Linked DNA regions of Homo sapiens. The protein of the gene in region 3 purifies or fractionates together with the protein of the main gene of each other region. This does not show direct contact. Each region holds a gene or a part of one and is shown on either strand. Other genes may lie near its edges.

The links.
Region 1: the proteins of LRRC23 (region 3) and MTO1 purify together in Homo sapiens (affinity purification with mass spectrometry; one large-scale study listed by BioGRID and IntAct). This does not show direct contact.
Region 2: the proteins of LRRC23 (region 3) and GUF1 purify together in Homo sapiens (affinity purification with mass spectrometry; one large-scale study listed by BioGRID and IntAct). This does not show direct contact.
Region 4: the proteins of LRRC23 (region 3) and SUGT1 purify together in Homo sapiens (affinity purification with mass spectrometry; one large-scale study listed by BioGRID and IntAct). This does not show direct contact.
Region 5: the proteins of LRRC23 (region 3) and GATB purify together in Homo sapiens (affinity purification with mass spectrometry; one large-scale study listed by BioGRID and IntAct). This does not show direct contact.

Annotation. Positions count from the first base shown.
Region 1 is NC_000006.12:73,470,929-73,477,121, forward strand, and holds part of MTO1 (5-taurinomethyluridine-[tRNA] synthase subunit MTO1, mitochondrial), read left to right. Parts: intron 1-2,436; coding exon 2,437-2,726; intron 2,727-6,193. UniProt on the Homo sapiens protein: Component of the GTPBP3-MTO1 complex that catalyzes the 5-taurinomethyluridine (taum(5)U) modification at the 34th wobble position (U34) of mitochondrial tRNAs (mt-tRNAs), which plays a role in mt-tRNA decoding and mitochondrial translation.
Region 2 is NC_000004.12:44,687,256-44,693,448, reverse strand, and holds part of GUF1 (translation factor GUF1, mitochondrial), read right to left. Parts: intron 5,443-6,193; coding exon 5,303-5,442; intron 4,164-5,302; coding exon 4,040-4,163; exon of another isoform or gene 4,039-4,039; intron 3,607-4,038; coding exon 3,474-3,606; intron 2,733-3,473; coding exon 2,589-2,732; intron 1,784-2,588; coding exon 1,650-1,783; intron 1-1,649. UniProt on the Homo sapiens protein: Promotes mitochondrial protein synthesis. May act as a fidelity factor of the translation reaction, by catalyzing a one-codon backward translocation of tRNAs on improperly translocated ribosomes. Binds to mitochondrial ribosomes in a GTP-dependent manner.
Region 3 is NC_000012.12:6,906,867-6,913,013, forward strand, and holds part of LRRC23 (leucine-rich repeat-containing protein 23), read left to right. Parts: intron 1-448; coding exon 449-579; intron 580-3,023; coding exon 3,024-3,160; intron 3,161-5,863; coding exon 5,864-6,137; 3' UTR 6,138-6,147. UniProt on the Homo sapiens protein: Essential for sperm motility and male fertility. Plays an important role in the proper assembly of the third radial spoke (RS3) head and the bridge structure between RS2 and RS3 in the sperm flagella.
Region 4 is NC_000013.11:52,678,584-52,684,776, forward strand, and holds part of SUGT1 (protein SGT1 homolog), read left to right. Parts: intron 1-1,390; coding exon 1,391-1,572; intron 1,573-6,193. UniProt on the Homo sapiens protein: May play a role in ubiquitination and subsequent proteasomal degradation of target proteins.
Region 5 is NC_000004.12:151,704,674-151,710,866, reverse strand, and holds part of GATB (glutamyl-tRNA(Gln) amidotransferase subunit B, mitochondrial isoform 1 precursor), read left to right. Parts: intron 1-2,765; coding exon 2,766-2,879; intron 2,880-5,597; coding exon 5,598-5,682; intron 5,683-6,193. UniProt on the Homo sapiens protein: Allows the formation of correctly charged Gln-tRNA(Gln) through the transamidation of misacylated Glu-tRNA(Gln) in the mitochondria. The reaction takes place in the presence of glutamine and ATP through an activated gamma-phospho-Glu-tRNA(Gln).

The DNA.
Region 1 (6,193 bases), on a different chromosome or scaffold from region 3:
GGTGAGAGAGCAAGAGTCTGTCTCAATAGAAAAAAAAAAGATAGTCTGTCTCCTTCACTTTGTCCCCTCAACCAGCCAGTTTTCTTTCTCAGGAGCATTTGCTTTGTTAATCTGTTGTGTGGTCTTTCTACCTAGGCATATGTACATGTCTTCATGCATATGTATATGTATTTTTTGTTGTTTTCACAAAATCGTAGCATATTATACACACTGTTCCTCTGTACCTTTTTTTAAAAAAAAAACTTAATCTGTGTTTGCTTTGCTTTTGGAGGCCATGCTTTTTTTTTTTAAGTTTGTGGGTTTGTTCCGATGGTTACCTTAAAAGCTATGATTTTATATATAATATAATATGCTCACTGACTTCCCTCAAGTAACAATTACTAAATTAGTTTTACTTTCATTTCCTTTTCTCCCCCGACTTTCTTTATTTTCCAGATTTAATGGTTATATTGTTTTTATTAGTATTTATGTTTATACCCTTAAATTGTTTATTTTTTTATTTTTGAGACAAGTTCTCTCCCTCTTTCTTAGGCTGGAGTGCAGTGGCATGATCACAGCTCGCTGTAGCCTCGACCACCTGGACCCAAGTGATCTTCCTGCCTCAGCCTCCTGTGTAGCTGGGACCACAGGCATGTGTCACCACCCCTGGCTAATTTATTATTTTTTTTTGTAGAGATGGGGGTCTCACTATGTTGCCAGGACTGGTCTTGAACCCCAGGGCTCCAGTGATCTTCCTGCCCCAGTCTCTCAAAGTGTTCATATTATAGTCATGAGCCACTGAGCCTGGCCGATTTAATTTAATATCTTTAAATGCTATTTTGTGATCCTGTCCATATTTTATAGGCCCAACAATAACAATTTTTTTGTGGTAAAATATACAAACCATAAAATGTACCATTTTAACCATTTTTAAGTGTACAATTCAGTGCTATTAAGTACATTGACAGTGTTGTGCACCCATCACCACCAACGGTCTCTTGAACTTTTTCATCATCCCAAATTAAAATTCTGTACCCATTAAACAAAAAGTCCCCATTACCTGAAGAATAAACCTCCATTTTACTGTAAGGTAGAGCTATCTGAGGACAAAACCTTAATGTGTAAATTTCAGCTGTTTCTTTCATTTTCTGTTCCAAGTTTCATTTCTACATTCCTCCTCAGTTCTTATTCTCAGTTCTCTAATTTCTGAGCCTTTGCAGGGCAAATTAGTTCATTCTCATTGATATATCTTCTCTTCAGATATTAATACTTAAGTTATAGCTATCTCCCCTCTGCTAGATGAGTTACCATTCTTCCAAACACTTTCTATCTTTCAAAAATACATTGAAATTTCTCATCTTCTGACTGGTTCTTTTTCATTACTTGTCCTTTTGGTTTTATACCTTTTTTATTCCCCTATTTAATTTTCTTTGAGTTTTAGAAGGGAGAAGAAATGAGAGGTTGTATGCCATATTTATCCTGAAGTCTAAAATTAATTAATTTTTTAAATTAATTGAGACTAACTTTTTAGTGCTGATATGATTTTAGGTACATGTGAATTGGTGATAACACATTGTATTCTCTCTCCTAGATTGCTTAGATTGAGATTGATAACATATTAGCCTTCTTACTCATTTAAAATTCTTTGTCTGGGGTAGGGGAAATGGGAAGATACTGCTCAAAGGTTATACATTTTCAGCTGTAAGTTGAATAAGTTCTAGCAATCTAGTGAGCAGTATGGTAACTGCAGTTAATAATAATGTATGATATACTTGAAATTTGCTAAGGGAGTAGATCATAAGTGTTCTCACCACACAAAACGTGTAACTATGTGAGGTGATGGTTATATTAATTAGCTTGATTATGGGTATCATCACAGAAGGTATACTTGTATCAAAACACCATGTTGCATACTCTAAATATATACAGTTTTTTATATGTCTGTTATATGTCGATAAGTCTTGAAAAAACAAAAATATTAAAAAAGATTCTCAAGTTTTTAAAGACTGATAGTTTTTCTGTAGTTGTAATGTAAAATAGTCACATTCCATTTTGATCCATGGTAACAATTTAAAAAATGACTTTAGGCCGGGCGCGGTGGCTCACGCCTGTAAGTAATCCCAGCGCTTTGGGAGGCAGAGGTGGGTGGATCACCTGAGGTCGGGAATTCGAGACCAGCCTGACCAACATGGAGAAACCCCATCTCTACTAAAAATATAAAACTAGCTGAGCGTGGTGGCGCATGCCTGTAATCTCAGCTACTCGGGAGGCTGAGGCAGGAGAATTGCTTGAACCCGGGAGGCGGAGGTTGCAGTGAGCGGACATTGCACCACTGCCCTCCAGCCTGGCGATAGAGTGAGACTTCATCTCAGATAGATAGATAGATAGATAGATACATAGATACATAAATACATAGATACATAGATAATGACTTTATTCTTTTTTCTTGTTATTTAGTGGATGGAAGCACAGTATATGCAGAGAGTGTGATTCTGACTACTGGGACATTTCTGAGAGGCATGATTGTAATTGGATTGGAGACGCATCCAGCAGGACGTTTAGGGGATCAGCCTTCTATAGGATTGGCTCAGACACTGGAGAAGTTAGGGTTTGTGGTGGGAAGGTTGAAGACTGGGACTCCACCCCGAATTGCCAAAGAGTCCATTAATTTCAGTATTCTAAACAAGCATATACCGGACAATCCATCCATACCATTCAGCTTTACCAATGAGACAGTATGGATTAAGGTAAGATACTTTACGAAAACCTGGCTTACAGCTGGTATTGGCTATTCACAGCAGGAAGTACTGTAACTTTTTTTTTTTTTTTTTGGCAGCAGTTCACTTTATAGCACTATTGCTTATAGTGCAAAGAAATGATTTTTTTTTTTTTTTTTTGAGATAAGGTCTCACCTTGTCACCCAGGCTGGAGTGCAGTGGTACAATTATGGGTCACTACAGCCTTGACCTCCTGGGCTCAAGTGATCCTCCCACCTCAACCCCCTTGAGTAGCTGAGACCATAGGCATGAGCCATTGTGCCTGGCTTTTTAAAATTTTTTTGAGAAATGGGGTTTCACTATGTTGCCCAGGCTGGTCTCGAACTCCTGGGCTCAAAGGATCCACCCCCCTTGGCCTCCCAAAGTGCTGGGATTGCAGGTGTAAACCACCGAACCCAGCCAAAGAAGTTATCCTTTTTTTTTTTTGTGGTGGAGACTTGCTCTGTCACCCAGACTGGAGAGCAGTGGCACGATCTCAGCTCACTGCAACGTCTGCCTCCTGGGTTCAAGCAGTTCTTCTGCCTCAGCCTCCCGAGTATACAGGCACGCGCCACCACACCCGGCTAATTTTTATATTTTTAATAGAGACAGTGTTTCACCATATTGGCCAGGCTGGTCTCGAACTCCTGACCTCGTGATCCACCCATTTCAGCCTCTCAAAGTGCTGGGATTATAGGCGTCAGCCACTGCACTCAGCCTAAAGAAGTAATCTCTAAAAGGGATTAGCTAACTTGGCTAATTGGGTATTTCCCCATAAATCGTAAATTTCTTTTTTTTGTTTTTTTGAGACAGTCTCAGTCTGTCGCCCTGCTGGAGCGCAATGGTGAAATCTTGGTGCACTGCAACTTCCGCATCCTGGGTTCAAGCGATTCTCCCACCTCAGCCTCCCTAGTAGCTGGGATTGCAAGCACCCGCCATCATGCCTGGCTAATTTTTATAGTTTTGTAGAGACGGGGTTTCACCATGTTGGCCAGGCTGGTTTTGAACTCCTGACCTTAGGTGATCCGCCTGCCTCAACCTCCCAAAGTGCTGGTGCTGGGATTACAGATGTGAGCCACTGCACCCGACTTTTTTTTTTTTCTTTTTTTGAGACGGAGTTTCGCCATTGTTGCCCAGGCTGGAGTGCAATGGCGCAATCTCGGCTTACTGCAACCTCCGCCTCCCAGGTTCAAGCAATTCTCCTGCCTCAGCCTCCTGAGTAGCTGGGATTACAGGCTCCTGCCGCCACACTGGCTAATTTTTGTATTTTTAATAGAGACGGTGTTTTGCCATGTTGGCCGGGCTGGTTTCAAACTCCTTACCTTAGGTAATCCACCCTCCTCAGCCTCCCAAAGTGCTAGCATTACAGGCGTGAGCCACCGTGCCTGGCAAATCTTAAATTTCATTACTTTTATAACCTTACATATTTTGTAAATTAAGCTTTTATTTTAAAAAATTTTTTCATTTATTATTATTTTTAATAGAGACAGGGTCTCGCCATATTGCCCAGGCTGGTCTCGTACTCCTGAGCTCAAGCCATCCGCCCACCTCAGCCTCTCAAAGTGCTGGGATTACAGGCATGAGCGACCGCACCTGGTCAAATAGGCGTTTTTTGTTTTGTTTTGTTTTGCTTTTTGAGATGGAGATTCAGTCTTGTTGCCCAACCTGTGGTGCAATGGCACGATCTCAGCTCACTGCAGCCTCCGCCCCCTGGGTTCAAGCAATTCTCCTGCCTCAGCCTCCCTAGTAGCTGGGATTACAGGTGCCCGCCGCCATGCCCAGCTAATTTGTTTTTGCATTTTTAGTAGAGACAGGGTTTCACCATGTTGATCAGGCTGGTCTTGAACTCTTTTTTTTTTTTTTTCTTTGAGATGGCATTTCACTCTTGTTGCCCAGGCTGGAACGCAACAGCACAATCTCGGCTCACTGCAACATCCACCTCACGGGTTCGAGCAATTCTCCCGCCTCAGTCTCTTAAGTAGCTGGGATTACAGGCATGTGCCACCACACCTGGCTAATTTTGTATTTTTAGTAGATGGGGTTTCTCCATGTTGGTCAGGCTGGTCACGAGCTCCCGACCTCAGGTGATCCGCCCGCCTCGGCCTCCCAAAGTGTTGGGATTACAGGTGTGAGCCATCGCACCCAACTGGTCTCAAACTCTTGACCTCAGGTGATCCACCTTCAGCCTCCCAAAATGCTGGGATTACAGGCGTAAGCCACCATGCCCGGCCTAAATTAAGCTTTTGAAACGATATCAGGTGGTGCTGCTGGAAAGGCAGCCGCCCCCTTGCCCATTACACAATGCATTTTTATGGAGAACCCGACACTGAACCATTCTTAGATGACCTGCTTCTGGGGTGGGATTTCAGACATAGCAGAGCAACTTCCTCGCTGCGATCTATTGAAAGTTAACCCTCAGCTGGGCGTGGTGGCTCATGCCTGTAATCCCAACAGTTTGGGAGGCTGAGGCAGGTGGATCACTTGAGGTCAGGAGTTCAAGACCAGTCTGGCCAACATGGTGAAACTCCATCCCTACTAAAAATAAAAAAAAAATAAAAAAATTAGCCAGGCATGGTGGCTCATGCCTGTAATCCCAGCTACTCGGGAGGCTGAGGCAGGAAAATTGCTCGAACCTGGGAGGCAGAGGTTGCAGTTAGCTGTGATTGTGCCACTGCACTCCAGCCTCCAGCCTGGGCAACAGCAAGACTCCATCTCAAAAAAAAAAAAAAAAAAAGAAAGTTAACCCTCAACGCATATAATTTTATTTTAAAAAGACGGAGAAAAACAAAAAAAAGTAAGCAACATCGAGAAAAAGTTGTAAGACTTTTCTCAATGTAAGAGTTTTTTCACAACAAACTCCTATAAACCATTGAACGTCACTCACTGTTAATATTTTACCATATTTATCGCTATAGATATATCAATTTATGTCCATATTTACTGTGTAAGATGGTAATATACACATTTATTCTTATTCTTTTTTTTCTGGAATATTTGGGAGTAAATTGCAGAGATGATGAGCTCTTACCTTAAGCCTATATCTCAACTAAGCACAGAGACATCCTTTTATATAACCCTTATGCAATGATGAAATTCAGAGTACGATGCAGGGACAATAAAATTTAAATTTTTTTTTTTTTTTTGAGACGGAGCCTCACACTATCCCCCAGGCTGGAGTGCAGTGGTGCAATCTCGGCTTACTGCAATCTCGCCTTCTGAGTTCAGTCAGTTCTCATGCCTCAGCCTCCTCAGTAGCCGGGATTACAGGCACCCGCCAACACGCCTGACTAATTTTTGTAGTTTTAGTGGAGACAGGGTTTCACCATGTTGGGCAGGCTGGTTTTGAACTGCTGTTCTTAAATGATCTGCCCGCCTTGGCCTCCCAAGTGTTAGGATTACAGGCATGAGCCACTGCGCCTGACCAAAAAATTTTTTTAAAGACAGAAAAGAGTCCAGGC
Region 2 (6,193 bases), on a different chromosome or scaffold from region 3:
AGAATACAAAGCAAATAGAGAATAAAACAGACATGGTCCTTAACTTTGAAGTTGTTACAGCTCCAGCTATGTTGTGGTCCAAAATATTAAAAATCTTAAAAATTTCTTAACTCATTTTTTCAAAAGAAATCATTATAAAAATTGTGTTTTTGTTTCCAAGCAGTCCAATTGATACCTAACCTCTATTGAAAACATAGGTATTCTAGTGTTTCCTTAGAATGCAGGAAACACATTTGTAATTCCAAAAAGCTACTAGTTGCTGTTGATTCTTGCCTCCTGGTATGAAATAAGTTTTTTCCTGATCTTAATTCATAGTCTATGATGACTTTCTGTTAAGTGTGGAATTGACTGCCTATGTAAAACATCCATCTTGAACATAATTACCTTAATGCTGGAAGCTGGAATATTTTATTTTTATGTAGTTCAAAAATAAATCATGTTCTCTCATTAAATTCAAAATGTATTTAAGTTTCCAAACGACAAGGCTTTTTAAGACCACTTATAATTCAGAAAGTAGTACCCAAATGCAAACTAAAATTGACAGACTTCTGTTAAAAATATTTATAAACATTAAACCTACTAATCTTCCTTTCAACTCTAGTAATTTTAATATGCCCCTCAATTCATTTTACTTTAAATTCCATTGCCACTTACTTGCTCAAGGTCTTGTCTGAAAGAAGACATAGAAGAAGAAAAAACTGGGTGACAAAGTAGAAGAAAATTCTCAATACAAAGGAACATGAAGATTCCTTGGTAAGAAGAATTATATATGCTAACTCTCTTCACTGACAAGATGATTAAATAAAGTTAAACTTCCAAGTCACTGTAGCATGTTTGTTAAACACTGGAATTTGTCTCTGCATGTTAACATTAACATTCATGCACTGTGTGGGAGTTTTATAGATGTCAATGTTCATTTTTCCCCTCCTGCTTCCCCATGTTTCACATCTGTTTTCTATATATACTATCCCGTAACATAAGATTTTAGGGCATAGTGAGGGTATCTAGAGTTATATGCCCCAACAACAACAACAACAACAAAAAACAGCCTCTCAGAATGCTATGCCCTGAGTTTCTTATTTGTTATTTAATAGTAACTCTCCTTTCACTTTTATCTGGCTTTTCTCCATGTACTCCTATGAGATACACAAAGGTTTTCGTGATGAGGACAACCTGTTCCTCAAAAGACTAAGTTATTAAAGTGTTCACTAATGGAGCGGCACATCTAACATTTTTTACAGACTGAATATGCACTTTTATTTTTCAAATGTAAATAGATGCTCTTGAGATTGCATAACATAAATATACATTTTAAAAGTGCCACTGAGGTTATGGTAAATTTTTGAAATTAGGTCTAATTCTTAACAGACAAGGAATACAGCTCTTCATGAAAAGGGGACTAACTTTTTTTGTTAAAAGAGAAATAAAAGTTAGATAATAAATCAAAGGAAACTTTTCTCCTATAAGCAAATCACAAGTAGTCTGTAACACCTATAAAGTTGTTCCAAGTCATTCTAACCTTAGAGTATGATTCTCAACTATCTTCAAGAAAGCTGAAATTACTAAATAAATGAAGAATTAGTATACCCTTGCTCATCAATATTTCAAAAAAGTTGGTCAGGCATCTTAGGTTCTCATTATTTTTTTACCTAGCATATCCAGAAGATAGGGATTTCAAAGAGTCATAAAAATCTACCACAATTTCATTCAAAGGAAAGAGATATTTAAGCATAACTCTATTTTGATCAATAAATATCATATTCTTCTGAACTGCTCTTCGAGCCTAAAAAGGGAAGGAAGAAAATGGGTTTAATGATAACCTACTCAAATACTGAGGAATGATGTATTTCTCTAAAGGTCTAGTAAAAACTTATAGGCAGTATTTATAATCCAGAGAGAAACATTTTATATTTCAATTGCATTAGGCTTGCTACCAAAGCTTTTAATCTTTATCTAACAATTTTATCTTTTAAAATGAACACTATTTCATTTAACAGTAAATCAAATGTAACTACATATAAAGTCAAAAGTCCTAATTTCTTGTTTTACAAATAATTAGGTCCAGAGAAATTAAAAGTTAAGACCAAGATTACAATCTAGTTTTTAACCTAATCAAAGCTCAGTCACCATTTGACACACTTTCCAATATGTATCAGAGTATTTCACATAGGTATTTTTAAGGAATATAATTACATACCATTTGTGGATTAAATCATTTATTACAATGTGGTGAGAACTAAAGCAAAATGGGAGTACCTTCAAATTTATGGTCCCTGAAGTACTATAATTATCTTTCAAACTACTCAAAAAGGCGAAATTATACATTTAGCTAATTATCAAATTTCTTTCCTTTGGGCTAACATATCAAATCAGTAAATTACACAAATTATCAGAAATATTTTTATTTAAAATCAAAATAATTTAAAAAGTATACATATCTATGTGTATAGATATAGACAGATATATATATGAAAATCTCATTAAATTCAGTATGCTCAGCAGAAAGAAATCTTTTAAAACCTGAGTTGGAAATCACTATTTCAGAGGACTAAAACCTAATTTTGTATTAAATTGTATTATAGTTATACCTCGCAAAGCATCATTATTTTTCCAGTGTATTCATCTGGTGTGATAATAGTGCCCAAAACAACTGGCTCCAAATATTCTGTTACTTTTGATTTATCGGGGAATTGTGCAGGATTGATAATTGTAATTTCTTTTTCTCTATGTTCCTAAAAATTAGAAAAATCAGCAATACTTAAAATCTTAATATAATGATTATCATTTTTCTTGTTTGCCTTATATTTTAAAATCCCTCCAGCTGTAATCATTTAATATTAATAACAAGTATTAGTAAACAATATATTCCAATTATTGATATTTACTAAACATATTTCATGGACCATTTAGAAGAAGTATGACAAAAGAATACACTTTAACCTGACACTTATAAAACATTATAGTCTAATAAGTTAATTTTGTTGGAAAATATTTAGATTGCCAAAATTAGTATTTGTTTAAAATGAACAGATTGCCACTTACATGGAATACAATACTGTCTTCATCACTGATTTGAAATTTAAAATTTCCCAGTCACCAGAATGAATGCTTCACTTTTTACGAGATAAATTACTTATGACCAAAATTACATTTTTCATCTTTGTGCTAGAATCAGAACATTATTTTCACTACTAATTTTACCTTTTACTATCAGCAATAGACTAGTTTTGATAATCTGGAGATTACATCAGGTTAAGAAAAATATTGCATAAATTAGTTTTCAAAAAAGTTCTTCATCATTAGCCATAGGGTAATTCAATGTTTATTACTACTAATCAATAAATATTTTGTTTAATACTTAATCAGCTATTGGTATAGTAAAAAGCTTCTCCTGCATTGTATATACACACATTTATTTTTTCCAAGAGACTAATGCAAAACAGTACTAAATACCAGTACTAAATACCAAGTACCTTTATCAATTTTGATGATGACAGTACAGCTTTATATGGAACAGTAGGGGTTGTTAAAATAACAGAAGCATTATATTCTTGCTCCAGTCGCTGGTTGAAAACTTCCATGTGCAAAAGTCCAAGAAATCCTAGCCTGGGGGAGGAAAAGACAAACTCCAAAATGTTTATGTCCCATGGGCTTCATTTTTTTTTTTTTTAATGAACATATTGTTACTTTAAGGGAGGGATGGAATTAAGTCATTCAAACAATTCACAATATAATTAAATGCTAGCATAATTTTATTAAATAAGATTAAAATCTTCCATTGGGAATCTATTTTAAATCACTATAAAACTTACCCATAAAATGTCAATCCGCAACGTGAAACAGGCAGATAAAAATTGTTTTCGTTCACTTTACACTAATATAAACTTATTTTCAGTAAATGTTCCAGAACAATGCACCATTTTATACCTCCCTTACTTATAAAGATATTTTTTAAAAACCTCCCTTTCCTATAAAAATATTTTTAAAATACACCATTTACACCTCCCTTTCCTATAAAACACATGTGAATGAATCTTACCTCCAGCCAGCACCCAGAGCAAGGCTACTATCCCGATGAACGGTCACACTGGAATCATTTAAAGTCAGTTTTTCTATAGCACTCTTCAGATTGTTATATTCAGATTGGTCTAGAGGATACATTCCTGGGGATACAATGATTTCTAATTATCACGTGATAAGCTGCCTACAGACCTATCAAACCACATGTGTAGTGCTGCCAAGTTCCAAATTAGTCATTTACCTTTTAAATTACTTTCTTGTATTTTATTGACCAAAATATTGGTTTGCTAAAAATGAATGATTATTTGGTTTCAAAGTATCTTACAAGTCATTAGTCTGAAAGAATATACAACTAGATTTGCACTCCAAATAATGTTTTTAATGTTTTTGAAAAAATACAGGGAAAAGAAAAAAAAAAACATGGGAATTAGGCCTATTAAGAAAACACAGTGTAATTTCAAAAACAAAAGCACAAGACATTCCACAACCCAAATGAAACTTTATTATTGGATAAAAATAGAAGTAGACATGAAAACTATACTGCACTCTCAATTCTCTAAGGCAGATTATCTACTTAAAACCATAGTTAAATTTTGCTTTTTGGTATTTACTGACAAAAACTATGGGAATCACTACTGATTCTCTTTCATCTGACACCTCTGAAGTCCTCTAAAATCCACATGACTGACTTTGCCTAAAGGTAGGGGTAAACAAAGTTCCTAATTCCCAGTGAGAGAGACTGTAGGGCAAAAATTAAGGGCTAGATACTCAGCACAGAGTAACCTGATGACCTTCAATCAGGTCTTCCTTTTTCCAAAGTAAATGAAGTAAAAGATTCTGAAATTATACGTACTTGAGGCAACACCATTCTGTCATATCTACATTAGTACAGTACAATATTAAAGAAAGTCTATCGAAGATGAAGGCACTCAGTCAGTGTCTACTGATAATTACTAATAAGAACATCCTAATTAGAAAAATGTTTCAAATATAATAATGAACTCCCTAGAAAAATAAGAAAGAAATTTATATTACTGTATCCTATATATCACAGCTTCTTCCTCAAGAACTTATTTCTTAACACATCCTAAATGATCTCCCACATATAATTTCATCACACATATGTAATTATAAACTGATAAACAGCACAAAGTGAAACAATATGCTGGAATTAGTGGTTATTTAAAATAACCAGAATGTGTATTTTTTCCTTAACCACTGAGACAGACTTTTAGTTTAAAAATATCATGGCCCTCAACCTTTGAATTTGTGAACTCCTCACCTGCAAATACCATTGGTTTCGCTGATTTAAACCCAGGCAAGGGCTCCACTGGTTGCTTATGTAAACATAATGTATCTCCTATTTGCGCTTCAGTGACATCTTTCATCCCAGCAATCAGATAGCCCACCTGTCCTGCATATCTAAATAAAATTATTATATGCAAATATTTACTGCTTTAATGTTTCAAGCACATAACTCACAATTAGTTCTACCTTCCCAGGAAACTATCATACACTTTCCAAACTTTCCATACACTTTGAAAATAAGTGCTACATATCAATTATCAAACTCTGAAGCTTGTCAGCAAATGAACACACCAGGTCTTACAATCCATTAGACCTCTCTACTTATAAACCTAATGCCTTTTTCATGATTCTGCCAACCTTTGCAATTTAAACAGCAGTTTCTAAAATATATGTAAATACAGTGAAACTAGTAAGTACAAAAGCATTATAATAAGTACACTTGTGATGTCTTTTATTAATGAATTGTGTTGAAAATGTTCTTTAACAAAGGAAAAAAAGGTAAATTTTTATCCAAGAAAAATGTGAACTCTCAACAAACTGGACACTTGATATTCCTCCTGTAGCAAAAGAGCAAATCCTATGAGTTCAGTTTAAGCTTAGTTAAAAAAAAAAATCCCTACAAAACTAAAATGATTTACACTTAGAATGAGCTTTAAGAACCTTAAATGAAGATGTGATAATGTTTGGTATATATGGCAGAATATAAATAGATGTTAAAATATTTCAGTAAAATAAAAATAGACTTTCTGACTCAATATAGTGCTGTTTTTAGACATATAACACTAAACACTCAAATGTGATCTGACAGTCATCTGGTTCAATAATTTCTACAGACAAGGAACAGGACCTTACAAAGCTCAAATTA
Region 3 (6,147 bases):
TTATATTCTAATTGGGAGAGACAAACAAGTAACAACAAACACAGTAAGTACATTCATGTAGCATGTTAAAAGGAGACAAGTGCCTTGGAAAAAATAGATCAGAGTAAGAGGAATGGGGGACACAGGTGGCAATGTCAAATAGATTGGTTAGGACAACCATCACTGAGAAGATGACATTTGAGCAAAGAATTGAAGAAGGAGAGGGAATTAGACATGTCAGCTGCTTCATTCACTCTTCAAAGGCTTAGGTGGATATGTCCATCAGGACCTTGGACTACCTACCACACCACTTGCCTCAGGGCTCCAGAGGTATTAAGTCTGGAGCTGGCCTTCCTCAGTATCTACCCTGCTTTGCGAATGGTAGGATGATTTAGAGGCTCCCCAAATTCAGGCTCTAATGCTGAGCATTTGGAGTGGCCCTTTGAGCTCTTGAAACCCTCCTCCCCAGGGAACAGCATCCACATGGTGACAGGTCTGGACCCCGAGAAGTTGATCAGCCTGCACACAGTGGAGCTTCGGGGGAACCAGCTGGAAAGCACCCTGGGAATCAATCTTCCTAAGCTGAAGAACCTCTACCTGGTAGCTCACTGGGTCAGAGGGTGGTGCAGGGAAGAGGGCACTGTCCTGGGGGTCAGGATGCCTGCTTTCTAGTAGGCTCAGCTACTAACTTCATCATTATGATAATAACTGGTATTATTATCAAGACCATAGTTGGTTCCAGATGCTGTGGAGATACACAGCCACCTAGCAGGGCTGATAATATATAATGTGTGGATAATACAGAGATAATTTACCTTGATACAGGTAGTAGCAAAATGGACCATAATTGAGGTACAAACATCAGTCTGTGGAAATGTTTTAGGAAAACCCTCCTCTCAGACTGGGTTTTTCTTCAGCTCTTACACTACCACCACAACAATCATCAACATACGACTTCCGGGACCAAAGGTGTGGGGGTTTCTCCCCATACACCAAGTAGTAGACACCAGCTGGGTGATCTCTAATTCGATTCACTGTCTACCTGGGGATGGCATCAAATCCCACAGATTGAGGGCTCGGTTCCCAAGAGTGACCCCTACACCGCCCACATACACCAGTTGCAAGTCCAAGCCTCCAGAACTTCTGACACACCAGCTTCAACATGAAGCTGGTTCCCATGACCTCTTCTCTGGATTTAATTAATTTTCTAGAGTGGTTTTTATTAGTTTATTGCAAGGGCAAAGGATACAGATGAAGAGATGCTTAGGGCGAAGTATGGGGATATGGGTGCAGTGCTCCATGCCCTTCCCAGATGCATCACCCTCCAAAAGCTTTCACGTGTTCAGCTACCCAGAAGCTCTCTGGACCCAGTCCTCTTGGCTTTTCATGGAAGCTTCATGATCTTAGTATTCCTTCCCCCAGGAAACTGGGGAGGCTGTCGCTGGGGAGGGTCTTAAGAACCACAATCAGGCCGGGCGCGGTGGCTCATGTCTGTAATCCCAGCACTTTGGGAGGCTGAGGCGGGCGGATCACCTGAGGTCCGGAGTTCGAAACCAGCCTGGCCAACATGGCGAAACTCTGTCTCTACTAAAAATACAAAAATTAGCCCAGTGTGCTGACATGCGCCTGTAATCCCAGCTACTAGGGAGGCTGAGGCAGCAGAATGGCTTGAACCCAGAAGGCAGAGTTTGCAGTGAGCTGAGATCACGCCACTGCAATCCAGCCTGGGAGACAGAGCAAGACTCCATCTCAAAAAAAAAAAAAAAAAAAAAAAACCAAAGAAAAACACGGTGAAACCCCGTCTCTACTAAAAATACAAAAAAAAAAAATTAGCTGCGTGTGGTGGCAGGCACCTGTAGTCCCAGCTACTCGGGAGGCTGAGGCAGGAGAATGGCGTGAACCCAGGAGGCGGGGCTTGCAGTGAGCCGAGATTGCGCCACTGCACTCCAGCCTGGGCAACAGAGCTAGACTCTGTTTCAAAAAAAAAAAAAGAAAGAATCACAGTCAGAAAGAGGGAGTGGGGGGAAAGATTAGCGCTTTCTCTTGGAGCAGGTGAAAAGACGGCTGGAGAAGTTCCTGAGACCTGCCCCTGAGGCCCAGCACACCCAACTTTATAACAAAAGACTGCAAGAAGGGCTATTATGGGGGTTATAAGCTAGGGACTGTGGATGAAAACCGATATATATATTATATATTATATAATTATATATTATATATAAATATATATTATATATTATATAATTATATATTATATATAATATATAATTACATATAATATATAATATATAATTATATATTATATATTATATATTATATATAAAATATATAATATATAATTATATATTATATATAATATATAATTATATATAATATATATAATTAGATATAATATATAATTATATATTATATATAATTATATATAATATATTATATATAATTATATATAATACATAAATATATATAATAGTATATATTATATATAATATATATAATATATAAATATATATAATAGTATATTATATATAATATATTTTATATAATATATAAATATTATATATAATAGTATATTATATATAATATATAAATATTATATATAATAGTATATAATATATAATATATAATATATATTTTATATATTATATAATATATTATATATTATATATATAATAACTCCACAGGAAGCCACTGAAATATTTAGTCTTTTAGACTCTTAAGCTTCGTTATTCTGGGATGGTGCTGATGCCAATCCTCAGTGGTGGCCTGGGGGCTCCTGGGCCGGGTAGGGGTGGGTTGAAGCATCTCCTCCATCCCAAGTGGCTTTGATGGGGCGAATGGTAGAGGGTTACTGCTGACCTTTCTCTGGGATGGCAGCTTCTCCTGAACTTCTTTACTTTCTATACTGATCTCTACTCACCCCCACTCCTTTCTTCCACTCCTCCCTCTCTACCTCTTGGATTTCCTCTTTTGCTTTATCTCATTCTGACTTCTCTTTCTTCCCTATCCCTGCTCCCTCTCAATCAATCCACTGTGCCCTGGGGGTCTAGGCCCAAAACATGCTGAAGAAGGTGGAAGGCTTGGAGGATCTGAGCAATCTCACCACCTTGCATCTTCGAGACAACCAGATTGACACCCTGAGTGGCTTCTCCAGAGAAATGAAATCATTGCAGTACCTCAACCTGAGGTATGCACCCTCTCCAAGCCCCACCTTGCCCCTACCCCTGACCAGGTGCAGCTTTTGAGTCTGTGTTCTTCCCTGGCCCAATCCCCCAGTCCTAGCCCACAGCTGGATTCTCAAGGAAAGCCCGGCTTTCCTTCCTTTCTTCTGCACTGAGTTGCAACACTAAATCCCTTATAGCTTGTGACCCCTGAATTTTTATTCATTCAATCCACAATTATTGAGAATGTGCTATGTGCCAGGCCTTGTGCTGTGTTTTGGGGACATTTAAAGCAATCAGAGGCTGGGCATGGTGGTTCATGCCTGTACTCCCAGCACTTTAGGAGGAAGGATCACTTGAGGCCAGGAGTTCAGGACCAGCCTGGGCAACCTAGTGAGACCATGTTTCTACAGAAGTGAAAATAATGGCCCGGCATGGTGGCTCACACCTGTAGTTCTAGCACTTTGGGAAGCCGAAGTGGGCAGATCGTTGGAGCCTAGGAGTTCAAGACCAGTCTGGGCAACATGGCAAAATCCCATCTCTACCAAAAATACAAAAATTAGCCAGGCATGGTGACAGGCACCTGTAATCCCAGCTACTCAGGAGACTTAGGCGGGAGGATCGCTGGAGCCTCGAGGTGGAGTTTGCAGTGAGCTGAGATAAAGCCGCTGCACTCCAGCCTGGGTGACAGAGCCAGACCCTGCCTCAAAAACAAAACAAAAATAAAATATTAAATAAAAATTAAAATATTAAATTAAAAATAAAAATTAACTGAGCCTGGTGGTGCACACCTGTGGTTTCAGCTACTCAGGAGGCTGAGGTTGGAGGATCACTTGAGCCCAGGAGTTCAAGGTTGCAGTGAGCCATGATTGTGCCACTGCACTCCAGCCTGGGTGACAGAGTGAGCTGTCTCTAAAAGAAAGAAAGGAATCAGAGGTGATTCCTGTTCCTAAGGGGCTCACAGTCTGGCTCCAACTCTTTTTTCCTCACCCTATCCTATATAAGTTTCCACTGCCCTTCTCCATTTCCTCGGTCCCAATTCACCTTCCCATTTCCTGCCTCTCTTCTCCTGAGCCCCACCTGTAAGGGATGACCTTTTTACTGATTAAAAAAACACAAGATGTGCTCAGATTTGAGGAGAGAAGGACATTTGTAAGAAAATCTTTTGGTAGAAAGGCACTGAAGATCAGCAACTCTTGTCGGATGGAGGACTTTATGTGTGTTTATTTCAGCAAACATGTAAGGAAACTGCCTCTTTCCTTAGTCAACAAGACCAGATTCTTGAGCTGGTAATGGAAAGAGCATCTCCAAGTAGGGAGAGGTGGTTGCATCTGGAAGCCCCAACTCTCATCCTGACCCCCTGGGCATTCTCTTATTCATGAACTCTGCCACACGGATCTGGTGGGGTGTGTATCTGTGCCATCTTCCTGTTAATGATCTAGACAGGCATGATGGACCCTTCCTGAGTGGCTATTAAATGGGGATGTTTTGAGAGTAAGTCGGGTGTGTGTGTGGAGGGGGGTGAGGGTGTCTCAATGATTGGCAGGTGCCTCTGGGGCCAGAGATGCTAAGCATCCAACAATGTATGGCAGAGTCCAGTACAAAGTTCCTGTAGCCCTCCTGGTGAGAAACACTGCATGAGGCTCAGCACGACCATGAGATCAGGCTGAAACACTTAAATAGATTTCATAAAAGCTTAAAGCCAGAACATGAAAATAAATAAAATTCCAGGCATGGTGGCTCACGCCTGTAATCCCAGCACTTTGGGGGGGCCAAGGCAAGAGGACTGCTTGAGGCCAGGCGTTCAAGACAAACCTGGGCAACATAGTGAGACCCAGTCTCTACAAAAAATTTAAACATTAGCCAGGTGTGGTGGCACATGCCTGGAGGTACTTAGGAAGCTAAGGTGAGAGGATCACTTGAGCCCAGGAATTCAAGGCTGCAGTGAGCTATGATCATGCCACTGCACCCCCAACCGGGGTGACATAGTGAGACCCTGTCTCAATAAAAATAAAATAAAAACAGAGTATCATATAATGAGGCACATTAGGAGATGAAGTTTATTCTTCAGGTTGGGAGGCTCCAACCCATCCATAGCCTTAGGTTCTCTTTGTGGAGAGCACGAACCGAGCATCCACCACCCTAAACTCCAGCTTAGATCCCAGTTCCTTGTCCACTGACCTAGGTCCTACAGGGTGGAGTGCAGTGGCTCGATCTCGGCTCACTGTAATCTCAAACTCCTGGGGTCAAGCAATCCCTCCTCCTCAGCTAAGTAGCAAGGACTACAGGTGTATGCCATCACGCCCAGCTAATTTTTTTATTTTTAGCTTTTGTACAGATGGGGTCTCGCTATGTTGCCCAGGCTGGGTCCTACCTTCTACCCTCCATTTAGGTGTGATCACAGAAAATGTCTCTCCCTGTGAGGAAAATTTGCCCTCTCCTCCCCAGCTACAAGACAGGGTTGTGGCCTAGCTTTGCTGCACCAAAAGAACACATGAATGTATTACAGAGTAGAATATGGCACTTAGGGATTCCTTGAAGGGCAGAAGCAGGACCAGAGCGGGGTCACACAGCACCTCTGCAGTAAATCTGGCAAGGCTTGGCAGGCCAGTCCTCACAGTGTTTCTAGGGACACTGGAACCCCGAGAGTCCCCCAGAGGCCCCATTCCTAGCAACTGGCAACCAAAGCCCATTATTCCTGCATGAACCCCTCCTGACCACACTGGCAGGGGCAACATGGTGGCCAACCTGGGGGAGCTGGCCAAGCTTCGAGACCTGCCCAAGCTGCGAGCGTTGGTGCTGCTTGATAACCCATGCACGGACGAAACCAGCTACCGCCAGGAGGCCCTGGTGCAGATGCCATACCTTGAACGCCTGGACAAGGAATTCTATGAGGAGGAGGAACGGGCTGAGGCTGATGTGATTCGACAGAGGCTGAAGGAAGAAAAGGAGCAGGAGCCTGAGCCCCAGCGTGACCTGGAACCCGAACAGTCATTGATCTAGCAGCAGTTCT
Region 4 (6,193 bases), on a different chromosome or scaffold from region 3:
AGTCTGCATTGAGATGATGTGCTATGTGAAATATATGCTACAGTTTGAAGAGTTAGTATGAAAAAAAGAATATAAAATATCTTCATTTTTTTTGTTGGTTTTTTTTTTTTTTTAAGAGAGAGTCTTGCTGTGTCACCCAGGCTGGAATGCAGTGGCACTGTCATGGCTCAGTGTAGCCTCAACCTCCTGGACTCAAGCAGTCCTCTACCCCAACCTTCCGAGTAGCTGGTACTGCAGGCATGTGCCACCACGCCCAGCTAATTATTATTATTTTTTTTTCATAGAGATGGGCTCTCACTATGTTGCCCAGGCTGGTCTCACACTTCTGGCCTCAAGCAATCCTCCTACTTGGCCTCCCAAAGTGCTGGGATTATAGGTGTGAGCCCCCATGCCCGGCCTCTGTTGGTTTCAAGTCAATATGATACTATATTTGATATATCAGGTTAAATAAAATGTATTATTAAACTGCATTTCACCTGATTCTTTTTAGTAATGTAGTTACTAGGAAGTTTTAAATTATATATGTGACTCACATTTGAGGCTGTCATTATATTTTCATTGGATAGTCAACAGAGCTGCTCCTATAGCTACTAGGTTGTCTAGTTATTTTCTAATTATTTGTGTGCCAAGATCTTGATGCCTTTGGTCTTTGGAGCAATCTTGGCAGTACCCCGAGCCCCTGGGCCAGTAGCCTCTCTCGCTGCAAGCAGCTCTGTTTACTCCAGTGTGCCCTACAAATACTATTATTTGCTAGGTGTATGGGATGTGGGCATTGAACTTTAGATCATCAAGTGTAGTACTTTAAACATTTAGAAATTACTTACTGTTATTGCCTATTAAAATAATCTTACTTTTTTGATGGGAGAGTATGGAGTGGCATGGATGATTATTTATATTTTCAGGCTATTTATACTCTGAAAGATACTAAGTACTTTAGAAAAAGTCACATTTTTAACATTTATTAAAATCTTAGTTACAAAAGATTTCTTAGGCATCCTTTAAAAAATTTCATTTTTAGAATTGTTCGTACTGTCTCTGCAACTTTTCTGAAAACATAAAAGTTCTGTATACTTTTCATCTAGTTTCTGTTATCAACATGAAGAATCTGCTTTTAATCTAATTTTGTATAGCATATCAAAAGTTTACACTTTATTGAGTTATTTTGCTCAAAAGAAATCCCCAGATTTTACATTATGGTAACTGACTCAGTTTTTAGAAATGTGAATTTTGTTATTGACCTATATACCAGAAAGACACTTATTGCATACCTGAAATTCAGTAACCTAAACTGTTTGCTAAGATGTTCCATATACATGGTCACAAAGTTTACATATTCTCGACATAATTGAAACATGTTGATTAATTACTTCTGCCTTTTTTTACTTCATAGATGTAAAGAACCTATATCCATCATCATCTCCTTATACAAGAAATTGGGATAAATTGGTTGGTGAGATCAAAGAAGAAGAAAAGAATGAAAAGTTGGAGGGAGATGCAGCTTTAAACAGATTATTTCAGCAGATCTATTCAGATGGTTCTGATGAAGTGAAACGTGCCATGAACAAATCCTTTGTAAGAATATAAACTTAAAGAAATATATATGGGAGCAAATTTTACATATTTTAAACGAGAAAATTGGTAATGTGAGACCAAATTGCGTGTACTATAGCTGGGAGAACTTTTTGAATAAGGTCTGTCTGAACGTTTCTTTTTGCTCTAAGAGTAATTTTTGAGGAAGTTGAAAACTTATGGAAGAGATGAGAAACAAGTGGTTTATCTTAAATAGGTATTTTTTATCAGTGAGTTAGATTGATATGGAGTCATCTCACTTGGATTTATCCCAGTAGCTGAGTGAACTTCTGTTGTTTCCCTTCTAGACTCATATGTAGCCTCAGTGTTAGAGATGAAGAATATAGATACGAAACTTTTCAGAATAGTGTTTGCAAGTAGAAGGTGCACGTTATTCATTGGTTTAACAACTCTCTTGATTAAGAAAATTCAGGCTTTTTGTCAGGGCAGCATAAATACCTAAATTAGACCTCAAAATTTTAGTAATAATTCGTCATTGTATATTTAGCTTGCAGTTGTAATCATGTGACTTTTATTAATACCAGTAGCTCTGGAAATATGACTCTTTTAAGACATATTTACAGTAGAAAGTTAAAATTAGTATTTTAATTTAATATTTAGTTAATGTGGTTGAGGCTTAGGTATTTCACACTTAAGAAATCTGTGGTAATTGGTCATGATTGTGCTTTTCACAGTTTATTTATTTAGAGACAAGGTCTCACTCTGTTGCCCAGGCTTGAGTACAGTGGCGTGATCTCGGCTCACTGCAGCCTCTGTCTGCCGGGCTCAAGTGATTTTCCTACCTCAGCCTCTGCAGTAGCTGGGACTATAGACATGCACCACCACGCCTGGCTACTTTATTTCTTGTAGAGGTGGGGTTGCGCCACGTTGCCCAGGCTGGTCTCGAACTCCTGGCTTCAAGCAATCTAGCCGCCTCAGCCTCCCAAAGTGCTGGGATTACAGGCGTGAGGCACCTCAACCAGCCTCACTATTGATTAAAAAATTTTTTTTCATCACTTTTGGGAGACTGAGGTGGGAGGATCACTTGAGCTAAAGATCTTGAGATTAGCCTGGGCAACATAGAGAGACCCTATCTCTACAAAAAAAAAAAAAAAATTAGCTAGGCCTGGTGGCATGTGTCTGTGGTCTTAGCTACTTGGGAAGGTGAGGTGGGAGGATCTCTTGAGCCTGGGTGGTCAAGGTTGCAGTGAGCTGTTTTTTTGTGCCACTGAACTACAGCCTGGGCAACAGAGACCCTGTCTCAAAAAAAAAAAAAAAGTCTTCATTAAACTTTTAGTTTTGAGATAATTGTAGATTGACATGCAATCCTAAGAAATGAGATTCTTTGTACCTTTTACAAAGTTTCCATTGATGGAAACATTTTGTCAAAACTATGCTACAACATCACAACCATGATACTGACAGTTAAGATAGGGAACCTTTAATCCCAGTGCTTTGGGAGTCTGAGGCCACAGGATCCCTTGAGGCTAGACCAGCCTGGACAATATGGTAAGTTCTGGTCTCTACAAGAAATTTAAAAGCTACCTTGGCATGATGTTGTGCCCCTGTCAGCTCAGGCGTCTGCGGCAAGAGTATTGTTTGAGCCCAGGAGTTCAAGGTTGCAGTGAGCTATGATCGTGCCACTACACTTAGCTTGGGCAGCAAAGTGAGACCCTATCTCTTTAAAAAAAAAAAAAAGAGAGAGAGAGAGATAGAACATTTTCATGGATTCCAAGGATCCCTTATGTTGCTATCTTATGGCCATACTAACCCCACCCCCACCCTTCCATGATCCCTGATGATCACAAATCTGGCAATCTTTGTCAGATATGTAGTTTACACATATTTTCTCCCAGTATGTAGTTTTCATTTTCTTAATAGGGTCTTTCATAGAACCAAAATATTTCATTTTGATTAAGTCTAATTTACCGCTTTTTATGGATCATGCTTTTAGTTTCAGGTCTTATTAACTCTTTGCCTAGTCCTAGATCTCAAAGACTCTCTCCTATTTAAAAAATAAATAAAAGTAATATTGTTTTACATATTACATTTATTTTTTATTTAGAGACAGGGTCTCATTCTGTCACCCAGGCTGAAGTACAGTGGCACAGTCACAGTTCACTGTAACCTCAAAGTCCTGGGCTCAAGTGATCCTTATGCCTCAGCCTCCCAAGTAGATGGGACTACACATCCATGCTGCCATGCCTGGCTAATTTTTAAAATTTTTTGTAGAGGTGGGGGTGTCTCCGTATTGCTTAGGGTGGTCTCGAACTTCTGACCTCAAGCAGTCCTTCGGCCTTGGCTTCCTGAAGTGCTAGAGTTACAGGCGTGAGCCACAGCACCTGGCCTACATATTACATTTAAGTCTGTGATGCATTTTGAATTTTTATGTCAAGTGTGAGATTTAACTTGAGGTTCCTTTTTGTGGGGTGGATAGTATGTTCGGGTGTTCTGGCACCTATCTTTTCTCATTGAATTGCTTTTGCACCTTTCTTAAAAATCAGTTGAGCGTATTTGTGTGAGTCTATTTCTAAGTTCCCCACTGTGTTAGATTGAGCTGTATGTGATCTATATGTATGTTCCTCTGTCAGTCCCACTGTCTTAAGCTGTAGCTGTTTAAGTCTGAAATTGGGCAGACTCATTCCTCCTACTTTATCCTTTATTTTCACAATTGTTTTTAGATATTCTAACTCATTTGTCTTTCCATGTAAATTTTAGAATAAAGTGATTATATATAATTTTGGTGTTCATTACTAGAATCTAGACATACAGTTAATTTTATGTTTATCTTGTATTCTGTGACATTGCTGGACTCAGTTCTAGGAGTATTTTTGGATAGATTGTCATTTTTTTAATGTGGACAATCATCTTCAAATATGGAGGTTTTATTTATCTGCAGATACGGAGAGTTTTATTTCTCCCTTTTCTATCTGTATGCCTTTTATCTCCTTTTCTTGCTATATTTCACTGGCTGCAACTTCCGCACTGTGTTGAATAAGAGTAGTGAGAGTGGACATCCTTGCCTTGTTTCCCATTTTAAGGGAAAAGTATCTGTTGTTTCATCATTAAGTATAATGTTAACTGTAAATTTTTGGTAGATGATCTTTGTCAAGTTATGAAAGTTCTGTTGTATTCCTATTTTTCTGAAATTTTTTTATCATTAACTTTCAATATTAACTTTTTGTCAGATGTTTTGTCTGTGTTGATTGATAGGATTATATGATTTTTCTTCCTTAGCCTGTTAATATGGTGATTTTATATGATTAATATGATTGATTTTCAAGTATTGAGACAGTCTTGCATGAGCCCTACTTTGTCATATAGTGTATCTCTTAATTCTATCTTCTAATGTTTTGTTATGGGTTATTGTGTCTATATTCATGAGGAATATGAGTCTAATTTTCTTTTTGTGCTATCTTTGGTTTGGCATCAGAGTAATACTTCATAAAATGAATTAGGAAGCATTGCATCCTCTTCTGTTTTTTAGAAGATATTGTGTATAATTGGTGTTAACTTTTCTTAAGTATTTGGTAGAACTCACCAGTGAAACGGTCTGGGCCTGGAGATTTCTTTATTAGGAGATTTACAGTTATGAATTTAGTTAACCTAAAAGTTTTTATAGGACTGTTCCAATTATCTATTTCATATGGGTGACTTGTGGTTTGTTTCTGATAAATTTATCCATTTTGTCCAAGTTGTCAGTGTTTGTATAGTCCCTTATTCTTTTTGTTTTTTGTCTTTTGTTCTTGAGACGGCATTTTTCTATCGCCCAGGCTAGAGTGTAGTAGTGTGATCATAGCTCACTGCAGCCTCAACTTCCCAGGCTCAAGTGATCCTCTCATCTCAGCCTCTCCAGTAGCTGGGACTACAGGCATGTGCCGTCACATCCAACTAATTTATTTTAATTTAATTTAATTTTATTTTATTTTGTAGAGATGGGGTTTTGCCATGTTGCCCAGTCTGGTCTGTAACTCCTGAGCTCAAGCGATCCGCCCACCTTGGCCTCCCAAAGTGCTAGGATTACAGGAGTGAGCCCCCATGCCTGGCCTCCCTACTCTTTTGATGTCTGCAGGGTTTATAGTGATATCTTTTTATCATTCTTATAATAGTAATTTGTGTCTTTTCTCTTTTTTCTTTGTCAGCCTTGCTAGAGGTTTAAAGGACACCTTATCTAGCATATGCTTACCCATTAGCTAGATTTGCTTATGTTATTGAATTTTTTCTTCCAAAGAATTAGCTCTTTGTTTCGTTTTTTCCTCTATTTTTTTGTTCTACATTTTTTTATTCATTTCTATTTTTATTTTCTTCCTTCTGCTTGCTTTAAGGTGCATTTTGTTCTTACTTTTCTAGGTTCTTAAGATGTACATTTGTCTATTATCTATTTCTATCTATTCACTCATTTTTGAGACAGGGTCTCCCTCTGTCGCCCAGAGGGGAGTGCAGTGGTGCGATCGTGGCTCAGTGCAGCCTTGACCTCCTGGGCTCGAGTAATCCTCCTGAGTAGCTGGGATCACAGGCATGCGCCACCATTCTCAGTTAATTTTTTTTTATTTTTTGTAGAGACGAGGCCTCCCCATATTGCCCAGGCTGGTCTTGAACTCTTGAACTCAAGCAGTCCTCCCAT
Region 5 (6,193 bases), on a different chromosome or scaffold from region 3:
TGGAGAGAGAAATGTAGGCATCCTCAGCATGAGGTGGTATTTAAAACTGTATCCGTCCACCCAGAGAGTCTAGATAAGGAAGGGGATCCTGGGTTTGGATGGGAAGGAAGCCATCAGCAAATGAAATGGAAACAAAGCATCCAGAGGACGAAAACTGGGAGCAAAAGGCAGCAGAAGCTGAGCTAGGAAGATAATTCACGAAGGAAGGATTGGTTGGCTTGTCAAATGTTGCTGAGGCGTCCAGTAGGTGAAGACAAGCGTGTCCTGTGTCCGCTGGATATGGCAGCCAGGAGACTGTTGGTGACTCTGACAAGGGCATTTTTAGAGAGATGGGGAGAGAAGCTAGGCTGACGTGGGTTAAGGAATAAATGGGAAGTGAAACAGCGGAGACAGTGTATGCAACAAACAAACAAAACTTGTTTAAGAGGCTTTGCTGAAAAGGAAACCAGAGAAACGATAGATGAGTGACTGATAGAGTGAGAACTGGGTTCAAGGGAATAGGTTTTGGGGTTCTTGTTTGTTCATTTAATAAGAAATACTATTGCATATGTATACGTCAGATGGAATGCTGAGAAAGAGTAATGACTGGTATGGGAGAGAAGGGATAACTGAGAGTGATGCCCTTGAGAAGGCAAGTGGGAGTTAAAATCTGGCTCAGTCCTCAGGGGCCTTTCATTCTGGTCTTAAAGATGGAGGCCAGTGCACAGAAGACTATGGTCATGTACTGAATTCTGTAGTATAGATTATAAGTATTCTGATAGTTTAGGGGACCCACCAGTGCAGGCCAGCTTGCTGAGGAGGGCTTCTAGGAGGAGGCGGTAACACTCAAGTGAGTCCTTGAGGGATGAGGAGAGGGACAGTAGCTCTGATAAAGAGAGCGTGCTGGTGGAGCAGACAGGGTTGTGTATACAGAAGGCTGCCCTGATTGGAGGGGAGCTTTCTCCCGGAATGAGCAGTGGGAACATACAGGTTATGTCGACTGAATCCAGATGACAGCTGTGGAGCACCAAGCAGAGGAGCCCAGATAATCCGGTAGGAGCTGTCTGTGCTGTTGAGTAAACAGCAGGAATGATGAACCCAGACTATATATAGCAGGATGAAAGTTACAGCCACATTGCCAGTCCCTGGACAAGGAGGGAACTGTGTTGAGTCAGGATGTGCTCTTATCACCTAAGCCTAAAGTTCGGAGACCTCGGGCGAGGCACCTTGGGCAAGGGTGGTAGCCATGGAAATGGAAAGGCCGTGACAGACATTAGTGATATTTGACAGCTTCCAAACTGGTAGGGGCTAGTTGCCAGTTTGGATATAAGGGGCAAAGAAAACAGAGAAGTAGAAGATGACCTCAGGGTTCCTAGACCGAGAGTCTCACGGTGTCAGGAATAGTTGGGACTTCCTGAGATGCAGATACACACAACTTGTCAAAAAAGGGATTAAAAATCAGGGGTTACAGAATTCTTGTAAAAGTGTTGAGAAGTCAGTGCTGGAGAGAGTAATGTCTGAGCTAAGAGACATCTTTTCCCTGTCAGCACGGGTGGCAATTGGGCGAGCCCTTCCCTTTCTCTGAGGGTGAGTGGTGAGGTGTCAGCCACGGGCCGCCGGCGACCTCCAGCTTGGTATAGGCCCCACAGCCCAGCACTGGGAGAATGACAGAGAACCAGTTCCAAGGGTCTCCTTTTCTTGACATGGAATTCATTTTGACTACTTTATTATTTTAATATGCTTTTGCTTTGGAATCTTGGGAAATGAATTTATTCAGCCCATCAAGACACTCAGGTTTGGCAGATTACTTTTAATTTAAAAACGTAACTAGGAAAATAAAATCCAGCATTTTGTCTTCTCACTCTGTTCTCTTTTAAATGTTGTAAATGAAACGAGGAACAGAGAATCTGAGAGCTTTACTTTGTAGGGTGCCAAATGTGATTCTTTCTTACCTACATCTATTTGTCTTGGGATTTTTCTCTCTCTCTCTTCCTCAAGAGCCTTTTAGTCCTCCCCACACATTGCCTGCTTCTTTAGGGCTTGTTGCTCCTAATCTGAGGGGCCTCCAGGGTCAAAGAAGGTCCTCCCAGCATGGGGTCAGCACCTCTCTGAGTCCCACCACAGACTCCTGACTTCGTAACAGTGCTGTCTGTCTGCTGTAGCAAATCGTTAGAGCAGTCAGGAAGGATTCGGAGTCATGTTTGTGGAAGGAAGAGATTATTACAGTACCTGGAGGAAGGAGGAGGGGGGAAAGCCCAGATTTCAGTTCTTGCCCTTGAGCTGCAAATTCTCAAGGACTCTCCTCTAAATCTCCTGGAATCACTGTTAGAAATCCACATTCCAATGGAGAGCAGTGTAGGGTTATCAGATATATGAGGCCTTTCCTCCAACTCAGCTCTGACACTTTGAAAAAAAACTTCAGTATAAAACTGCAGAGTCAATCTCCATTTTAATAGTTTTGTTTTTCTTGTTTAGCACAAAAAAATTAGATCTCTCCAGCTGGCGAATCTAAAACTTCTCTTCCATATGTGCATAAGCACACACATCTGTATATGTTCACATGTACAGGCACACACTGTAGATGCCTCAGGACTGTAACCCCTCTCGAGTGGCCAGAAGTACCAGCCACGACCTACTTCAGAACCAACCGTGCCTTCTCTGAAGTTAGGCTGCTATAACTAAACAGCAGGTAGAGTTAGATGCTGCTTCCTTTGACACTCCCTGCCTTTAAAAGACTATGTCACCTCAAAGAATTTCTAAGGAGTTGTTTTCTTCTCTCCTTCCAGAGGGCCAGTTGAGAGTGGATGCCAATATATCCGTGCATCACCCTGGGGAGCCTTTGGGCGTTCGAACGGAAGTGAAGAATCTCAACAGCATCAGGTTCCTGGCCAAAGCCATAGGTGAATGCCAGCTGCCGCTCCTAGTGTCCTTCTTCCTATTGTTTCTCTCTTGCTGGGTAACAAACAACCCAGAAACTTAGTGGCTTACACAAGAACTACTTTCGTTTTCACTGGTCCGTTCTGTTGGTCCTGTGTCGGCTCACTCATGTGGCTGTGGGAAACCGGCAGGCCAGCTGAAGCAGAGGGTCCATGGTAGTCGCTCTCATACCTTGGGGCCTTGATGCTGATGTCTGCTGGGCTTCTCCATCCATGTGATCTTTCTTCATGCACTTGCCTAGCCTTGGCTTTCTTATGAGGCAGTGGGAGCATTTCGGGAGGATGAAGGCAGAAGTGAGTCCTAAGCTGTAGACCTCACACAGTGTCACTTCCAATGTGTTCTATTCAAAGTAGATTGAGGCCAGGCACAGTGCCTCATGCCTATAATCCCAGCACTTTGGGAAGCCAAGGTGGGTGGATTGCTTGAGGCCACGAGTTCAAGACCACCTGGGCAACATAGCAAGACCCCATCTCTATAAAAAATTAAAAATTTAGCCAGGCATGGTGGTGAGCACCTGTAGTCCCAGCTACTCAAGAGGCTGAGGTGGGAGGATCACTTGAGTCCAGGAGTTTGAGGTTGTAGTGAGCTGTGATCACGCCACTGCACTCTAGCCTGGGCGACAGAGCAAGACTCTGTCTCTAAGAAAAAAAAAGAAAATTACATTGAATTCAAAGCAGACTTGAGGGGAAATTAGACTCCACCTCTTTATCAGAGGATCCACAAAAGATCATGGCTGTGTTTTACCATTTACCACCTTCTTTCTGACCAGCTTGAGATTTACTAGGTCATGGTTGTTCATTTTAGATTGACCATGGCTTGACCTAAATGGTCATTATGTTTTCCTGCTTTTTATATTCTTTTTAACTGCTAGATTATGTGCCCATGCAGTGAAGTAGTAGTCTTTCTGGAGCACACACTGTGGGTATTTCTTTGATGATAAATGTATAATAACTAAAATAGTTTAGCAAGATAAATATCTGAGCAGTCCCGTAGATATAGGTAACTGTGAATTCAAGGGGAGGACCTCAGAGGACTAAAAAGATTTTTTAAAACCGAAGCTATCTAGAGAGGAAGAGGGAGGGATGGAGTTTGAAGTGCACCCCTTCAAGGGTGCACAGAGACCAAGACAACTGAATCTGTTGCCAAAGTTTTGCTGTAGCCAAAATGTTTAATAGAGCCCTGGTCTTGTCAAGAAAAGTATTAGAAACAGTACAGAAAAGATGATTCTAGTCTTGTATTAGACCTTATTGTCCTGAACCTGAAGTGAATCAACCACTCAATGAAGACAGTCTTCAGGAAAAAGGCATTAAAGTGGTCAAACGGATAGCTTATGGGAGCAGAGAGGGAAGGGATAGGCTCCTATATGAAGGCAGACTAAAGATGGTGAACTGTTCTGCATCCGGAAAGGGACATAGCCCATGTTCCCAAAGCCATGAAAGGTTTGAGTCAGGGAAAACCCTTATAAGCCAAGTTGGTGAGGAGGAAGCCTGGAACAAATGGAGGAAGTTCCACCTCCCCCTGTAGGTAGTGGGCTGGGACCCGTTATTTTAAGAGGTGGTGATGGTAACCTTAAAAAAGCAGCCCAATTTTAGGTAGAGTCATCCATGAGTTCTGAAGGAGACCCCTAACCTTCTCCTGTCCTATGAAGAACTCTTTGGAGGACCAGTCTGAGGGAGAAATCTCCCTGTGGTCTGACTCAGAGTGGAAGAGCCAAAGCTTTACTATGGGTTCAATTCTCCAAGCCTGTGATTTTTCACCACCTTTTTCTCCCTATGTCAGGCCATTTAGCCATCATCTCGTGTCAACCAAAGAGATCACTGGAGTTGGGGAGAGATGGGGAGCAAAAACTGACACGTTTTGCTGTTGCTGCCTCTTAGCAACTCAGATAAAAGGGTTTAGGTTTGGGCAAGGGAAGGTAGTACATGGTGGGAGGGAGAGTTAAGGTGGAGGCTCAAGATATTTTCATAAAGCAGTTTAGCAGGCTGGGCTTAGTGGCTCATGCCTGTAATCCCAGCACTTTGGGAGGCCAAGGCAGGAGGATTGTTTGAGACCAAGAGATTGAGACTAGGCTGGAAAACATAGTGAGACCCCCATCTCTCAAAAAAAGAAAAAAAAAGCAGCAACAGCTTAGCAATTGTGGTTGTGTTTTGATTCCCACAGCCTCCCTCATTTGATGCTGAGGCATGGGTCCTTGGATCTTAATCATTTGGGGTCGTGGGTCCCTCTGAAAAGATAATGTAAATGCTGGACCCTCTCTCCAAAACCTGCACATATGCACACAACCCACACTTTGTGTATAATTTTGGGGATACCAGAGCCTTTGAAGCCCATCCCAGACTCCCAGGGTAAGGGCCCTGGGTAGGCAGCAATCTCAGACCGAGATATTGGGCCCAGCCCCACTTCTGCCAAGTCATGTCATCTGCATGGGGTTGCTTAATCTCTCTGAACCTGAATTGTCTCAACACGGAGTGAGCCTGCCTTCCTAAGGCCCTTTCCAACACCAATATTCTACGATGGCAGTGAGAAGGAAATATAGTGTGTAAGGGAAGGATTATTATAAACAATCTTCTTGATTTTTTTTTTTTTTAACTTAGAGATTGAGAAAGGTTGTTTCTAATTATTGCTTGACTGGATGAAAGGTATAATCAAAATATGATGCTAAATTAGTGTGTTTTTCCTAGACTATGAAATTCAGAGGCAAATCAATGAACTTGAGAATGGAGGTGAAATTCTGAACGAAACACGCTCATTTCATCACAAGCTGGGGTGAGTTCGCATTGCTGAGCGTCCTGACCACAGCCGGGGGTGGTGCGAGAGGGCTGGGCTCAGCCACTGACCAGCCATGTGACCTTGAAGGAGGCACGTAGCGTCTCCACTTTTAGGTTTCCTCATTAGTACAATTAGAAAAGTACTGTACCCTTCATGCCTGTAATCCCAGCACTTTGGGAGGCAATGGGCAGATCACGAGGTCGGGAGATCGAGACCATCCTGGCTAACATGGTGAAATCCTGTCTCTACTAAAAAAATACAAAAAATTAGCCGGGCATGGTGATGGGTGCCTGTAGTCCCAGCTATTTGGGAGGCTGAGGCAGGAGAATGGCATGAACCCGGGAGGCGGCGCTTGCAGTGAGCTGAGATGTTGCCACCGCACTCCAGCCTGGGCGACAGAGCGAGACTCCTCTCAAAAACAAAAAAGAAGGCCAGGCGCCGTGGCTCACGCCTGTAATCCCAGCACTTTGGGAGGCCGAGGCGGGCGGATCACGAGGTCAGGAGATCG